2 separate regions of the Homo sapiens genome follow, and region 2 is linked to region 1. A link means that fine-mapping ties the variant in region 1 to the expression of a gene that starts in the linked region. Tissue or cell type: whole blood. Region 1 holds a variant in brackets; the other region holds the start of a gene. All regions are shown on one strand. Distances are from middle to middle.

Region 1 (2,689 bases):
TCACTGCAGCCTCAACCTCCTCATGCTCAGGTGATCCTTTTACCTTGGCCTCCCAAGTAGCTGCGACTACAGGCGAGCACCATCACATCAGGATAATTTTTCTACTTTTTGTAGAGACGGGGTTTCACCATGTTGCCCAGGCTGGTCTCAAACTTCTGCGCTCAAGTGATCCGCCTGCCTCGTCCTCCCAAAGTGTTGGGTTTACAGGCATGAGCCACTGTGCCCAGTAGAGATCTTGATAATTCTCTAAATACTTCTTCATTAATTTAAAGTGTCAAAATCTTTGAGTAGGTTCTTTGAGGGCCGTAGGGACTTCTGCTATTATTTCTGTAATGTGCATTCCAGGCAGAGCCATTCTTAAGGCCAAGTGTTCCTATTCTACCAATTCCCCATGCTTGAGAAGACCCCAATGACATGATGACAAGGCAGTTAGAATTATAGCAAAAGATGGAGCAGGCAAAATGGGTAGTTTCAGTCATAGCTAGTAAAAATTTGAGACAAAACATATAATAAACTATCTGGTATATAAGTTTTTTCTTAAAAATGGAGGAAGGAAAGTAGAGCTGGACAAAGGACAAGAATACTTCCTTCCCTTCATACAGCAAGGCTGCCTTTCTCTGGCTCTTGAGCCCATTGGTTTGCTGCAGTGTTGCTGTTCTGTTTGGGGCTCAGGAAATGCCACTAAATCCTCACAAGTTTGATAGCTAGTCGTGCTTGGTCTTCCACTGAACATTCCCCAGCCTTCCTCTGGAAGAACTTTGACATATTCTCTTTTTTGTCACACAGTCTTTCCTAAGAATATATCTATGCATTAATCTCTTTGTCTCTGTGTAAGCCAAATTGGTATGATTCTTTTTACAGGAAACAGAAATCTGGACACCTAGAGAAAATGATACTATCACAATTTACTCCACAATTAATCATTCCAAAGAGGTAAGCCCACGATTGCTCCATGTTTTTATATTCTTACCTCTCTCCACAGACCTATGATTTTTCAAATAAAGTAAAAATAAAAGGGTCATTTTACAGATGCACAAACAGCAGCAGCATGCGGAAAGTCTCAGGACATCACCAAAACATAATCAAGAAGTTATTTTGTATTAGGATCACCATG[C/G]ATAACTGAGTTTTCAATTACATGTTTTTAAATTTAATCCTGCCCTATGCTATCAATATCTCTATTATCTGCCTCTCTGTAGTCTCCAGTCCTCTCTCTGTAGTTATGAGGGGTGGGCTGAGGTTCCAGTTCCAATTAACCTACCTCATCTTCCTCTTTTTCCCACAGAGTAAACCCACTTTTTCCAGGGCAACTGCCCTTGACAATGTCGTGTAAGTTGCTGAAAGGCCTCAGAGGAATTCGGGAATGACACGTCTTCTGATCCCATGAGACAGAACAAAGAACAGGAAGCTTGGTTCCTGTTGTTCCTGGCAACAGAATTTGAATATCTAGGATAGGATGATCACCTCCAGTCCTTCGGACTTAAACCTGCCTACCTGAGTCAAACACCTAAGGATAACATCATTTCCAGCATGTGGTTCAAATAATATTTTCCAATCCACTTCAGGCCAAAACATGCTAAAGATAACACACCAGCACATTGACTCTCTCTTTGATAACTAAGCAAATGGAATTATGGTTGACAGAGAGTTTATGATCCAGAAGACAACCACTTCTCTCCTTTTAGAAAGCAGCAGGATTGACTTATTGAGAAATAATGCAGTGTGTTGGTTACATGTGTAGTCTCTGGAGTTGGATGGGCCCATCCTGATACAAGTTGAGCATCCCTTGTCTGAAATGCTTGGGATTAGAAATGTTTCAGATTTCAATTTTTTTTCAGATTTTGGAATATTTGCATTATATTTAGCGGTTGAGTATCCAAATCCAAAAATCCAAAATTCAAAATGCTCCAATAAGCATTTCCCTTGAGTTTCATTGATGTCGATGCAGTGCTCAAAATCTCAGATTTTGGAGCATTTTGGATATTGGATTTTTGGATTTGGGATGCTCAACTTGTACAATGTTTATTAGACACATCTCCTGGGACATACTGCCTAACCTTTTGGAGCCTTAGTCTCCCAGACTGAAAAAGGAAGAGGATGGTATTACATCAGCTCCATTGTTTGAGCCAAGAATCTAAGTCATCCCTGACTCCAGTGTCTTTGTCACCAGGCCCTTTGGACTCTACCTCAGAAATATTTCTTGGACCTTCCACTTCTCCTCCAACTCCTTGACCACCATCCTGTATCCAACCATCACCACCTCTAACCTGAATCCTACCTTAAGATCAGAACAGTTGTCCTCACTTTTGTTCTTGTCCCTCTCCAACCCACTCTCCACAAGATGGCCAGAGTAATGTTTTTAATATAAATTGGATCCTTCAGTTTCCTGCTTAAAACCCTGCAGGTTTCCCAATGCACTCAGAAAGAAATCCAGTTTCCATGGCCCTGGATGGTCTGGCCCACCTCCAGCCTCAGCTAGCATTACCCTTCTGACACTCTCTATGTAGCCTCCCTGATCTTCTTTCAGCTCCTCTATTAAAGGAAAAGTTCTTTATGTTAATTATTTACATCTTCCTGCAGGCCCTTCCTCTGCCTGCTGGGGTCCTCCTATTCTTTAGGTTTAATTTTAAATATGTCACCTCCTAAGAGAAACCTTCCCAGACCACTCTTTCTAAAATGAATCTTCTAGGCT
Region 2 (2,689 bases), 36 kb before region 1:
AAATTTACAAGAAAAAAAAAAAAACCCCAACAAAAAGTGGGCAAAGGATATGAAGACACTTCTCAAAAGAAGACATTTATGCGGCCAAGAAACATATGAAAAAAGCTCATCATCACTGGTCATTAGAGAAATGCAAATCAAAACTACAATGAGATACCATCTCATGCCAGTTAGAATGGCAATCATTAAAAAATCAGGAAACAACAGATGCTGGAGAGGATGTAGAGAAATGGGAATGTTTTCACACTGTTGGTGGGAGTGTAAACTAGTTCAACCATTGTGGAATACAGTGTGGCGATTCCTCAAGGATCTAGAACTAGAAATACCATTTGACCCAGCAATCCCATTACTGGTTATATACCCAAAGGATTATAAATCATGCTGCTATAAAGACACATGCACACTTATGTTTATTGCAGCACTGTTCACAATAGCAAAGACTTGGAACCAACCCAAATGCCCATCAATGATACACTGGATAAAGAAAATGTGGCATATATATACCATGGAATACCATGCAGCCATAAAAAAGGATGAGTTCATGTCCTTTGCAGGGACATGGATGAAGCTGGAAACCATCATTCTCAGCAAACTAACACAAGAACAGAAAGCCAAACAACGCATGTTCTCACTCATAGGTGGGAACTGAACAATGAGAACACATGGACACAGGTAGGGGAACATCATACACTGGGGTATGTCACGGGGTGGGGGGCAAGGGGAGGGATAGCATTAGGAGAAATATCTAATGTAGATGACAAGTTAATAGGTGCAGCACACCAACATGGCATATGTATACATATGTAACAAACCTGCACATTGTGCACATGTACCCTAGAACTTAAAGTATAATTTTAAAAAATCAGTTTTCTTTTGGCTTTTTCTTAGCTTTATACTTAAATATTTTTTTCTAATGTAATTAGAGTGGAATTGTTTTTTGAATTTTATTTTTGGATTACTCATAGCTAGTATATACAATTGCAATTGAATTTTATATTTTGATTTTGTATCTTTTCACCTTGCTGAACTCATTTATTTGTTCTAGTAGATTTTAGGAAATTCCTTACAGACTTTTACATATAAGTTTATGAAAGATGCAATAAAGGACTTTATCTTCTTTTCCAAAAAAAAAAAAAATTTGTGCACTTAGCTCAGAAAAAAGTAAACAAAAAATTAACACAGTTACAAATTAGGATTTTTAGTGCAGGGGAAGAAGTTGTCACCACGCCTCTAAGAGGAAGGGGAAGTCTCAGAAGTATTTTCAGTTTATGACAGAAGGGCAAAAACATTGACTGCCTCAAGGTCTCAAGCACCAGTCTTCACCGCGGAAAGCATGTTGTGGCTGTTCCAATCGCTCCTGTTTGTCTTCTGCTTTGGCCCAGGTAAATGTCAATCCAGATCGGTGTAGTCACTGAGTGACTCCCTGGTTTTGTGCAGCTTGCTCAACCTAAATCGTCTGTATACAGTTGTCTGGCTCTCTGCCAAGGGATTGGGGCGGGAAAGGGGACGCTGGCAGTGTTACCTGATATACTACTACCTCCTCTCAACTTTGGATGCGATAAGCCTGAGATGGTTGTCGGTGAACAATTTCAATTGTGTCTGCATGTAAGAAAGTTATTTGCTGGGGCAGAGGAAATAAGCTTTTGAAGACAAGACTGTTTGTGGTTTATGACCAGCATCTTGTGTTATAAAGAGTACCAAGACCAAGAAAATGGGCCCTCATACCAATGTATCTACTATCGTACTGTGAACCTCAGGGAGGTTACTTATCCTTCCTGAACCTCACTATCCTCATCTAAATTATTAAAAACCTATTATTCAGTTGAGCCAAATTTTCTGGGCCCAACCAAACACACCAAAAATAACCCTCTCACCTTTTGCTCATTGCAAAAAAAAAGGTTTCCATCTCTCCCCTCCTTTAGTGCAAATTAGGGCTAGCTAGTCCAGCAATGCATTATATATGGCAGTGAGAAAAGAATGAACTGATCCAGCTGGCTTCTTGTTTCCTGCTGTCCATTATATGGAGAAGATGAAGATTCATATCACATTTGGGGAACTACAAGTGGTCCACGGGAGACAAAGTGTAGCATTCAGGCAGAGATAGTCCAGGAGACCAATGGAAATCTAGTCCAGAGCTAGCCCAGGGTAGCAGATAAAAGTAGGAAGCATTCACTGAGCACTTATTGTATTTCAAGTATTGTGCCAGGTGCTGTACACACGTTATGAGTCTCATGAGAATTCTATGAATTTATACTATTAATATCTCCATTTTAAAATGAAGAACTGAGGTGAACTTAATTTAAATAATTTGCCCAAATTTCATTAGCCAGCATGCGACAAGCTCTTGTAATAGTTATGAGAAAAAATAACAGTTCAACAAGTGTGGCAGCAGCATAAGAGAAAGAAGAGACTGAAGCAAGAGATCCCATCAATATGGAGTTAAGTAGAGTAATTGGTAATTGGAATGAGAAAGGAATAAATATTCATTGAGCACCTACTGAATGCTTGGCACTCTTCTAGTTTGCATGAATACATCATGAACAAAGCAAGCAAAAATTCCTGCCCTCATGGAGTTAACATTTTAGCAGGAGACAAACTGTAAAAAAAGATAAACAAGTAAAATAGTGTATTGGGTAGGAAGAAATAAATCAAGAAGGAAAGGGAGAGATGAAATATGGTAAAGACGGCA

The links. PIP is the estimated chance that this variant, and not a neighbour inherited with it, causes the effect.
Region 2: SLAMF6 starts here. The variant in region 1 is fine-mapped to the expression of SLAMF6 in whole blood (TOPMed, PIP 0.90).

The regions. Positions count from the first base shown.
Region 1 is chr1:160,485,348-160,488,036 of GRCh38, reverse strand. SLAMF6 (SLAM family member 6) reads left to right here. Exons shown (of 8, transcript NM_001184714.2): 7 at 862-933; 8 at 1,283-2,689. The coding sequence ends at 1,330. Among named protein-coding and RNA genes, the nearest start is that of SLAMF6, 37 kb to the left of the region's middle. The variant C/G (reference allele first, on the strand shown) is at 1,115.
Region 2 is chr1:160,521,837-160,524,525 of GRCh38, reverse strand. It overlaps SLAMF6 (SLAM family member 6), which reads left to right and starts at 1,271. Exons shown (of 8, transcript NM_001184714.2): 1 at 1,271-1,382. The coding sequence starts at 1,334. RefSeq lists an enhancer at 1,437-1,486.